3 linked regions of the Homo sapiens genome follow. The protein of the gene in region 2 purifies or fractionates together with the protein of the main gene of each other region. This does not show direct contact. Each region holds a gene or a part of one and is shown on either strand. Other genes may lie near its edges.

Region 1 (3,649 bases), on a different chromosome or scaffold from region 2:
TGTCTTGTGTCTTTATTTCTTACAATCTCTGTTTCCCCCTTCGAGGAGAACACCCGCAAAGCCCAGTAGGGCTGGACTCTACAGTCGTACCTTATCAGCAGTGTGTTACCCCCAGGCCAGATGACTAAGGAAATCTGTAACCACGACTTTCAGGTTAACAGCATAGTGCTAAGTGAAAAAAGAAAAATGTTAAAACTGCAACTGTTTCCAAGCTTATTCTTAGACGGCCATCTTCCTTCTTTTGGAATCTTTCTGGTACTAGTACTTTTTTTCTCTACAAGTGTATCTCCTCACATATGTTTAGGGAAACCAGAATCCCAAGGATGTGAGTGTTTTGACAGGGTCAAAACTGATTTGGTGCTTTTTAACTAAAATCTTTGGTTATGGGGGTTTTTGGTTTTTTGTTGTTGTTGGTTTAAGATCTTAAGCACAGTTACATTCTGGGCTATAGTAACATCTAGATTACCATGTAACTATTTGCTTAGACATTAAAATATTCAGGAATGAAAGAACTCCCATTCGAACATATGCCAATGAAATGTGTGGAAAGATTACATTTAGTTAAGTACATTTAACTTGGGGCAAGTGCAGCCAGATGGTCCCCTCTATGAGTGTAGGAGCCCGTTAAGTTTAATATGATCTGAAACAACTATAGGTGAGAATTTTTGCATGAGAAATATTTTATTCCGACCCTACAGGGTAAAAGAAGGGCTATAAACTAAAGCCGAAGATATTCAGCAGCTTTCTGACGTGGACATCAGAAGTGTGGACATGAGTGTGCTTTGAGCGCACTGTGGAAGAGCAGTGGTTGTCCAGCAAGGTCCTAGGTGCCTCCGTGGCCTTTCGTACAGTGGGCAAGTTGGGCAGGACTCATCTTAAAAATCATGTGTATGTTATAAATAACAAAATTTATTTATTTATTTTTTTGAGACAGTCTTGCTCTGTTGCCCAGGCTGGAGTGCAGTGGTGCTATCTCGGCTCACTGCAACCTCCACCTCCCGGAGGGTTCAAGTGATTCTCCTGCCTCAGCCTCCCAGGTGGCTGGGATTACAGGTGCCCACCACCATGCCCAGCTAATTTTTCATTTTTAGTAGCGACAGAGTTTCACCATGTTGGCCAGACTGGTCTCAAACTCCTGACCTTTGGCCTCCCAAAGCGCTAGTATTATAGGCGCAAGCCATTGTGCCTGGCCAAAATTTATTTTTGAGAGGCCGGACACAGTGGCTCAGTTCTAGCTTGTTGTTGTTGTTGAGGATTTTGTCATCTGTTTGGCTTTATCTTACTGCTGCTTAATTTGTATTGTATTGCAGGTGGGAACATTCTCCATGGCCAGTGAGGAAGTCTTGAAGAATAGAGCCATAAAGAAAGCAAAGCGCAGAAATGTTGGATTTGAAGTGAGTGCCCCCTTACAGCTCTTGCTATTAAATACTCATTTGATTTCTGGGTTGCACAGCAATCCCTCCGCTGGGAGCAATGATATCAACAAATGCTTTCTTAAAATACTTATTCTTTGATGTAGGTCATGGGAGATAGAAAAAAATAAGAAACGTCAGGTCTGGACCTTAAAGAGAGCTTATCCAGTTGAGGAAATAAGATAAATATAGACAAATTCAAGTTGAGTGACAATCTGGAGAAGAAAAATGAGCAAAGCAATACAGAGGTGGGCGAAGTGGCATCAGATTGGAGGAAGAAAGGAAAACGCAAGGATCTTCTGAGAGTCTTGTCTGCTCCCTGCGATTGAGGCCTTGGTAGGGGGAGCCCTTTCACTATACTAGAGGCATTTTAGGTGTGGATTTTTTGCTAGTATAGTATATTAAAATGATTCATTCCTGTGCTAAGAAGGATGGAAGATGAGTTGTAACTCCTAAATTGAAATAATGTGCTGATTATTAAGCAGTCACTCCGCATCTAAGAACTCGTCCCCAGTACATCCTCTCCCTTCAGATACATTCTAGACCCAGGAGAGTGTGGTCTTGGTGGCCTGGACATCTGGTGTTAGGCAGGAGATGCCGCTTTGAATATCCTGGGTGGCAGCTTTGAAATAAACCTACCCTACCTCACGTTTTGCAGTGTTTAAAACATCAAGAATAGACTATATTCTTGGGTGTCTCTAATCTGGAAATCCAAAATGCTCCAAGATCTGAAGCTTTTTGAGCACCAACGTGATGCTCCAAGGAAATAGTCATTGGAGGATCTCAAATGGTCAGGTTAGAGGTGCCGTGCCAGTAAGCATAATGCAGACTTCCTGGGAGCGGAAATACTTACTTTCCTGAGCGTTCTCCTTAAGGGACATGCAAGCTTATTTCCCTTTTATTTCCAAAAAAAAAGGATAGGAAAGGTGTATCATTCACACTTTGAGAAGCAATGAAAAGAAATTGTTATTACAAAAATATTCATTACATTGCCAAAGTTTTGATCATAAAATGTATTAAAGTTTGAAAACGTAAGGAAGGGAGCCAGGTAGGTGGCAGTGGTGGGGAGGCAGTCAGTAAGACGTTTACAACAGCCAGTCACTCAGAGCGTCTCATAAATGGTGGTATGTGTTAATGGGAAAACAATTCAAATTATAAAAATAAAGTATTCGCAATTTTCCTAAAATATATTACTGTATATACCAATATAGTGTAATTCGAGGCAGAGATACGTAATCCTACATGAAATCGATTCTCAGGTGGTTCTGGGTAGTCTTGAACGTCTTTAGGATGCCATGGCTAATGTCATAAGTGTGTGCTCTTTCTCTGCTCCATTGCATGCTTCAGATGCATGAGAGGAGCTTCATTTCCTGACGTTGTAAAAGCTCTTTCATGTAGAATTCAGGTTAACGGGTTGCACTGCCAAGAAAGGAAGTAGGTACAGAGGAAGCATATCTCAGATCCAAGCTAGAGATTAGGTCTTGTGTTTTGTAATTAATTAATTATATTTTGCTTAAAAATTGTATTTCTTATTTGACAAAAATTATATACTTATGGTGTACAACATGGTCTTATTTTCAGATGCATAATACATTTCTACCTGCCTGTTGTACAGTAAACCTCTTGAACTTCAGGTGTTTTTTTTTTTTTTTTGTCTGGTTTGATTTTATGAATTGCCTTGACTGGTGACTAGGTGGTAGACGTAGGTGTTGAGCTGAGTGATATTTGATGGCTCTTTCACTGGGAAGATACATGGGGGGAGGGACAGTTTAATTAAGGAGGAAATGGTTGGTCTTGGAAATGCTGTATTTGAAAGGCCTTGGTACACTCAAGTGGAGTGCCCTGGAAGACCACTAGGTATACAACAGGAATTATGGCAAGGATGGGCACAGCTCCGGCAGCTTTCGTCATGTGGGGGATTGAGGCCATGGGAATGGGCGACAGGAGGCATGCAGGTGGAGGGTCCTACGAGGAGTGAGAAACAAAGCTCACTGCAGAAGCCAAGGGAAGCCATTCTGAAGGAGGGGCAGTCACCTGTGCAACCGAAGGAAGTTCAAGAGGTAGAAATAGTACAGACCATAATCTACAACTTAAGCTGAAGGGATGAGGGAAGGAGAGGGCAGGAGCCCTTGGGCAACTAAGGGAAATTAAGTGTAGGTGGATAATAGAAATCCACAGATAATTTTAGCTGTAACTCTTAGCCTGAAGTTTTCATATATTAGGACAATTAAATGTCA
Region 2 (3,649 bases):
TGAATAGACCTAAGGAACATACTTCGTCCCAGGCTTAGTTTCTAGATTTTCTTCTCTCAAGATAAGTATATCGAAAACTAACTTTAAGCTGAGTACGAGAGGTAAATTATTCCCTCAAAGTATCTATACCTCCCATTCTCTGTCCTGTTTTATCGATTTATTTTATTTTTTGTATATATTCATGGGGTACAAATGCAGTTTTGTTACATTGTTATACGGCCTTGTAGGTGAAGTCATTTGCCTGGTTTTTTTTTTAATCTTTTTTTTGAGACAGAGTCTCGCTCTGTCACCCAGGCTAGAGTGCAGTGGCGCGATCTCGGCTCACTACAACCTCCTCCTCCTGGGTTCAAGTGATTCTCCTGTCTCAGCCTCCCGAGTAAGTGGGATTACAGGCACGCAGCACCATGCCCAGCTAATTTTTGTATTTTTAGTAGAGACAGGGTTTCACCGTATTGGTCAGGCTGGTCTCAAACTCCTGACCTCACGATCGGCCCGCATCGGCCTCCCAAAGTGCTGGGATTACAGGCGTGAGCCACTGTGCCCAGCCTATTTGCCTGTTTTTAAACGTGATAACTTCTTGCTTTGACTAAAAGGCATGAGCTATCACCTTTTTAAACTAAACATCCCCTAAGACTTAACTACTTCCTTCCATTTTCCATCTCTACCTCCTTCCACCATTTTCTAAATCACCAGATTCAGAAAACTTCATCTTCTTTCTGAAATCAGCCAAGTCTGAATTCCATACACTGATTCCTGAAAGTGTAACTCATGTAAATATGAGAAGCTCTCTTCATATCAGAGGCTGTGCTGTCGTGGGGTGGGGCAAATAACGCAGCCACTGGAGAAGGGTAGAGTCATACCTGGGGCACGAGGGGGTGTGAGGTGGGAAGGTGGGAAGCGATTTGCCTGCAATCCATCTTCCTTTCACACCACCCTCTTGAGCACAACTATATCTGCAGACAGAGAAAAAGGAAAGGTGGTTTTGCAGTATTTAGAATAACTTTTGACCAAAGATGTGTTTGCTGCATTTGGCTCACATGGAGACATTCTTGATGGTAATGATCATGCAAGTTTACTTGGCTTAGAACAGGGATCTTAGTATCATCCCTACTTAAGAATAATCTGTAGAGGGCTTAAAACATGCAGGAACTCAGCTCTCCGATATGGGGATTCTGATTTTATAGATCTATGGTCAGGCCAGGATTGAAAACAACTGACTTGTATTTCAGCCTGAAAAGAACAAAAATTATCAATCAATATTACAATATTAAATAATGTACATCCTACCACTATGTACATTATAGGCAAGTAATGAACATTATTTAATACTGTAAAGCTTTGTTCTTGTTCTTTTTATCTCCATTGCCACTACCCAATCGAAACTATGCTTTACTAGCTTGATCTTACTGCAGAACCCACTGCTATATCCCTATCACCTAGAATTGCATCTTATACTGTCACTACTAGTTTAAAGATATTTGTTAATAATATTGATAAGTTTGTCAGTATCAACGTTAATAAGTTTAAATATTTCTTCACACATCTGAGTAACGTTAGGTACTAATGTTATTAACATCAATATTATTTAATATTGATAACTTTTATCCTTTCCTATCACTATCTACATCATTTACCTATAATGTACATTTTTCTTTTCTTTTTTCCTTTTTTTGTCTGAGACAGAGTTTCACTCTTGTTGCCCAGGCTGGAGTGCAATGGCACGATCTCAGCTCACCACAACCTCTGCCTCCTAGGTTCAAGCAATTCTCCTGCCTCAGCCTCCCGAGTAGCTGGGATTATAGGCATGTGCCACCACGCCTGGCTAATTTTTTTTTGTATTTTTAGTAGAGACGGGGTTTCTCCGTGTTGGTCAGGCTGGTCTCGAACTCCTGACCTCAGGTGATCCACCTGCTTCGGCTTCCCAAAGTGCTGAGATTACAGGTGTGAGCCACCACGCCTGGCCTTAATGTACATGTTTCTTCTGGGATAAGTGTTATCTTTTCCTATCCGTATATATCTATATTGTAATCTAGTAATGTAGTAAATAAAGAAAAATATAGTTTAAAAAGTCTTTATGTAATATCTGTATAAAGACAGAGTATAAGACTAAATTTTCAAAGAAAACAAGAAGGAAATAATTATAAATATATAGAGTGATCAGAAAAGAAGGGTTATTTGGAAAAGGAGAAAGAATAGGAATATTCTGCAAAGTATAACCTATTATATATCATATTATATAATACATTATATGAATATATAGAACTATACACACAGTTTCTATACGTAGTTTCTCAATCTTGACACTACTGACATCTTGAACAGATCATTTTTTCCTCACAAGATATGGGAACTGTCCTGTGGACTACAGGGTGTTAAGCTGCATTCCTGCCTCTACTAGATGACAGGTGCACTGCACCCACCCCTCCTCAGTTGTGACATCCAAAAATATCATCTCCAGAAATTGCAAAATGTTATCTTGGGGGGCAGGTATCGCCTCAGGTTGAGAATCACTGTGTGTGTGTGTGTATGTGAATCACTGTGTGTGTATGAATCACTGTGTGTGTGTGTACACGTGTGCACGCACATGTGCATGAATGAAACATGGAATAAAAAGAGCTAGTGAGGTATAAAAAAATGGAATATGTGTATGTATAGATGATAGAAAAAAAAGGCTAAACGTTCAGATTATTACCCTGTATATAAGATGATCACCTTGGGCTACACTTCTTCTGTTACAAAGTTGTGAAATATTCATTATTTCATTCACCTAACAAATATTTTCAAACTGGTAGCAACAGTATAAGATGCTATTCTAGGTGACAGGGATACAGCAGTGGGTTTTACAGGAAGATCAAACTAGCAAAGCTATTTAATTATAATTTGGATTGGGTGATGGCAGTAGAGACAAAAAGAACAAAAATGAACCATATCATTTGAGGGGACGGGATGACCCAGGATGGCTCTGAGGTGCTCTTGGGCATATATGGAGATGGAACAAAAGTGCTGGAGAATGGAAGATGGTAGAAGAATTACTGACCCGAATCTGGATCCTTCAAACAGGCAAGCCTCCTAAAGCCCCAACATGGTCTTACCTTCCAAATGACAGTCTTTTTCCCCACGTTGGCCTCCTGAGTCAAGGCGTCCTCCAACTCTTTCCTCATAAGTTCCAGAGCCATCTGGAGCTTTACCTGTTTGGGAACATTTCAGCTGTTACAGATGCCCTCAATCTGTACCTAACGTCACACAGATGTGTGAGGAAATACAAAAGTCAACTTAAACAGTCCCTAGAAAGCACATAAAAATGTTCAATATCATTAAAAACTAAACATAAATGTACTTAAGTTTTAGTGTCAGGGTCTCGCTCTGTCACTCAGGTTGTGCAGTGTTGCGATCATGGCTCACTGCAGCCTCAAACTCCTGGGATCAAATGATCCTCCCACCTCAGCCTCCCAAGCAGCTAGGACTCCAGGCACACATCATTACATTCAGCTAATTTTGTTTTCTGTAGAGATGGGGTCTTACTATATTGCCCAGGCTGGTGTCAAACTGCTGGCCTCCAGAGAGTCTCCCATCTTGGCCTTCCAAAGTGCTGGGATTATAGGCATGAGCCACTGGGCCTAGCTCCTTAAATGTATTTTAATACCAGATA
Region 3 (4,443 bases), on a different chromosome or scaffold from region 2:
ACACACATCTAATAAACTGTGAGCTTCTCAAGGGCAGCAGTCTTGTTTGGCTCATATCAGACATCAATACCTCTGAGACATCAATACTTTACATATAACATGGCACTGAGAAGCTACTTTGTAATGATGTTTGTATGCAGTGAATGAAGATGGATGAATGACTTCCATTGGAAGATGGATAAATGACAGCTGCACTGAGAGATGCAGAGATAGGAGGATGAAGGAATGGGAGGTGGGAGGGATGGAGATAGGAATAGATGGAGGGGAGGAGGATGAATGGGCAGCCCACTCTGCTCACCTGAGTCTCATATTGATTCTCGATGTCCTTTCTGTTCTTAGCAATGAGCTGCTCATACTCCTGACGCATGTCATTGAGGGTCTTGGTGAGATCTTTGCCAGGAGCAACGTTTATCTCCACATTGACATCTCCACTGTTCTGCCCAGTCAGCTGACTCATCTCCTGCCAGGGAAGAAGGGGAGATGAGGTCACGGATAAAGTCCTCTGCACCACCTTTCAGAATTCTCCCTCTGGTCCCCCCAGGGTACAAAAAGGGGACACAGTTGTGAAGCCAAAGCCCAACCACTACCATAGGTGATGCCAAGGAGAAGTTGAAAGTGTCCTCAAGAGCAAAGGAGAGGGTGTCTCCCAGGTAATGTTCCAAAGCTCCCCTGCTGTCTCTGCATTTCTGCTCCTCCCTCTTCCCGGTAAGCCATAAGCCCCAGCAACCTACCTCCTTATGATTCTTCTTGAGGGCCATCAGCTCCTCCTGCAGAGTCTCATACTGCATCTCCAGGTCAGACTTCTCCATGGTCAGATTGTCCAGCACCTGCCGCAGGCCATTGATGTCAGCATCCACTCCTTGCCGCAGGTTTTGCTCCATCTCAAACCTGCAGACCAGCCAGGGTTAGAAAACAATCAAGAGGGAACCAGGCCCTACCAGGACCTCCAGAGCACTGAGGTTCAGGGGTAAGGGCTGATGACAGGAGAGGAGAAGAGGAGCAGGACTCACTTTATCCTGAAGTCATCCAGTGTCATGCGAGTGTTGTCAATGTCCAGGAGAGTTTTGTTGTTGCCCACTGTCAGGTCCACAATCTGAAAAAAAAAGGACACAGCCATGATATCATGCTGTGGACCACTGCTGAGAGGGCAAGAGGCCAGGCAAAGCCACAGGAGGTGAGGATTCCATCCAGGAAGATTCTCAAGAGGAATGAGGAACTTCCAACAGCTGGGACATGGCACAGACCCCTTCCAGCCTTCAGCGAAGATGTTTGGTGTGGCCTTCATTCATTCATTCAACAAATATTTGAAGATCTACTGCAAAGGGCATTGTAGGATTTAGAGATTACTGACATCCTGTTCCTCAGGGAGCCCACCATTGACTACAAAGTCAAAAGTGTCCTAAAAGAGTTCAAGGAAAGGAGAGGTGGCTTATGGCAATGGGAGATCAAGAAAGACTTCAGGAAGGAGGTGGCTGGCAATTGAATTGGGCCCTGAAGGATGGCTAAGATGTAACATTAATAAATAAATGGAAGAGGTTTAGAGTAGAAGAAACAGCACATTCAGAGACATGCAGGAGTTAAAACAAGAGGAATCACTGAGAATACTGAAGAGCCAGACCGTGAGCTCCACCAGAACTAGGTCTAGCACATCACTATGTCTACCCAGAGCAACCCTGAGGGTAGGCACTCACTGAACTGAGTGGCTGAATAAATGGATAGATAGATAGACATGTGGGTGGAGGGAGGAAGGGATAGATGGAAGGATGGATGGATAGATAGCTTCCATTCCCAGATTTCTGGATCCTCTCCAACACTTGAATAACCAACATGTACAGTCAGGTCCAAAATACCTTAAAAGATCAAGATACACTCCTAAAGAAGCCCAGGAGAAGTACAAAGGAAGAGAAAGTATTGACTTAGACCAAACCTAAAGGAGGTTCCACATCCAGTCCCAGCTCAGCTCACGTTAACCCAGGTCTCCTCTCTGCTCTGCCCAAACTCTGAAAGTTGAGGAAATGGAAGTGAACACTCAGAGCACAGGCCAAAGTCCTATCCTGGGATCCCCAGAAACCAAACACAAGTTTGTTTCTGATGAAAGCGTACATTTCCAAAAGGTGGATTCCCTGGCTATTATCTGAGCTTAGAGTTTAGCATTTTAACTTTTTTGGAAGATAAAGAATGAAAGAGAAAGAGACCAAGACAGAGACAGTTTCCTGCACCTACCTGGTCCTTGAGATCATCAATAGTGTTATAATAAGGGGAGTAGTTCTTCTGGATAGCAGCAGGTCCCTTCTTGTCGTACCAATCCTGGATCTTATTCTCCAGGTCGTTGTTGGCCTCCTCTAGAGCCTGCACCTTATCCAAGTAAGAGGCCAGCCGAGAATTGAGTTCCTGCATGGTGCTCTTCTCATTAGCAGTCAGAATACCACCATCACCTCCTCCAGCACCACCTCCAAAGCCCCCAAACCCCCCAAACCCACTCCCATAGCCACCACCAAAGCCACCTCCAGAACCACCACCAAAGCCACCTCCAAAACCCCCAGAACTACTATAGCCTCCTCCAGAAGCACCACCAAAACCTCTGGAACCACCCCCAAAGCCACCGCCTAAACTACTGGCACTAAAACCACCCCCAGATCCTCCGCCGTAGCTGTAGCCAAAACTGCCACCGCCTCCCCTCCCACAGACACGAGAGCTTCCCCCACCATAGCCACTAGAAGAGCTGAATCGGCCCCCTCCTCCACCGCCCCCTGAGGAGCTGAAGCGGCTGTAGGAAGACCTTATGCTGCCCCCGCTGCCCAGGCCGCCCCCGCCACCCCCGCCGCTGCGGCTCAAGTAGGACGAGGAGAACTGTCTGCAGCTCATGACACAGCTGGTAGCTCACGGGTTGAGAAGCAGTGATAGGAGTGCTACCGGCTCCCAAGTGCAGGGTACAGAGCTGTCCCTGGGGCTGCCTACTTATACCCCCAGCTGAAGGTGGCACGCCTGGGTGTGCCCTTGTTCTGTGCCAGCCTCCCCCCACAGACCCGAGGGAGGTCTGGGATACGGAGGCAGCCGGGCTGCCCCAGGCTCAGCGTCCTTTGGTGACTGCCTGGGGGCGGCCCAGCCTCTCTCCATTGTGTGGGATAATTTGATGACATTAGGCTGTCAGGGCCACCATAAATCAGCTGTACTGCCACAGGGGTGACCTAGATCCTGGAGTCTGGTCTCTGGCTGGCCCCAACAGCAGGTCTGAGACTTAGCCCCTTCGGGATAGAAACTCCCAAGAGCAGAGTCACCTCCTCTATTGATGGTCATTACTGTCTGCATCCCTCATGCCTCCTTGCTCCCACCTTGTGCCCACTGTGAGCTGAGCTGGAACTAGGGTACTAAGGAGTTATCATAGAGGAGGGGGAGGCACAGCCCCTGCCCTTGTGGAGCCCCAAATGGATGAAAACCAATCCTTGCTCTCAGGATCCTCGAGGCTTTCTGCAGAGTCTGAGGCTCTGCCCTTGGGAGACTCCAGTTTGATGAGGAGGCAACTGGCATGGCCAAAAGATGGAGACGGGCACCGAGACCATGCCCGCCAGCACTAAAGGACAGCGTGCAGAGTTCACACAAAGGGCTGGAAGAAGAAAGTGGACCAAATAAACAAGGTGGTGCTGACACTAGCTGACCTCTGAGCAGGAATGCAAGTGGCTCGACTGTCCTGGTCCTTTTGCAGGGCCCAGCAGGGAGTGTGGAATTGACCTTGGTTGAGTGCCTACCCCATACAGAACTCTGGAGGGGATACAGAGATGTGTGACTTATCCCTGCTCCTGGCAGAAACTTGGATGTATATTCTGGTCACCAAGGCCAGAAGAGAATGGTAAAGAACACGCTGGTCTCCGGTGTGCCTACCTGAGCTCCATCCAGCTCCATGCTCATGAGCTGTGTGACTTTGATAAGTTACTTAAATACTCTGTGCCTCAGTTTCCTCCTTTGAAAAAGGTTGATATGAGTAGTTTGTCCATCTCCTAGTAAGAGACTTGTGAGAAGTGCTCAAAAAATGTTCGGCTGCCTCTGATCATTCAGCCCCCTAACTCCCCGTCAACTCTGCCCTCACCCAGACCTTAGCCATGAGCTTCTAACTGCCCTCCCTGCCTCTCCCATTCCCTCTGACTCTTCCTGCACAGCAGCCAGAATGACCTTTCTAATCCATGTCTGACAACATCACTTCACCAGTTTCCCTCCACCCTCAAGATAAGGTCCACATTCCTGGCACTTAGGCCCATCCCCATCTTTCCATTCCTGCCCCATCTCCCACCATCCCCCAGGCCCCCTAGAAAATCATACAATGCTTCCCAAATGCCCTTCTTCCCTCTAAGAATACTCGGCACTTGCAGTGACCTCTGATTGAAATGTCCCACTCCATCTTTTCTACACAGAAAACTACCCATCTTCAGTGATCCCTCTGACTGCCTC

What was found.
Region 1: the proteins of TRIM58 (region 2) and NUP50 purify together in Homo sapiens (co-immunoprecipitation; one large-scale study listed by IntAct). This does not show direct contact.
Region 3: the proteins of TRIM58 (region 2) and KRT9 purify together in Homo sapiens (affinity purification with mass spectrometry, with the first as the bait; one large-scale study listed by BioGRID). This does not show direct contact.

The regions. Positions count from the first base shown.
Region 1 is NC_000022.11:45,170,290-45,173,938, forward strand, and holds part of NUP50 (nuclear pore complex protein Nup50), read left to right. Parts: intron 1-698; exon of another isoform or gene 699-888; intron 889-1,310; coding exon 1,311-1,394; intron 1,395-3,649. UniProt on the Homo sapiens protein: Component of the nuclear pore complex that has a direct role in nuclear protein import. Actively displaces NLSs from importin-alpha, and facilitates disassembly of the importin-alpha:beta-cargo complex and importin recycling.
Region 2 is NC_000001.11:247,860,156-247,863,804, reverse strand, and holds part of TRIM58 (E3 ubiquitin-protein ligase TRIM58), read right to left. Parts: intron 3,189-3,649; coding exon 3,093-3,188; intron 1-3,092. UniProt on the Homo sapiens protein: E3 ubiquitin ligase induced during late erythropoiesis. Directly binds and ubiquitinates the intermediate chain of the microtubule motor dynein (DYNC1LI1/DYNC1LI2), stimulating the degradation of the dynein holoprotein complex.
Region 3 is NC_000017.11:41,569,128-41,573,570, forward strand, and holds the start of KRT9 (keratin, type I cytoskeletal 9), read right to left. Parts: upstream 2,933-4,443; 5' UTR 2,866-2,932; coding exon 2,224-2,865; intron 1,094-2,223; coding exon 1,011-1,093; intron 889-1,010; coding exon 732-888; intron 461-731; coding exon 299-460; intron 1-298. UniProt on the Homo sapiens protein: May serve an important special function either in the mature palmar and plantar skin tissue or in the morphogenetic program of the formation of these tissues. Plays a role in keratin filament assembly.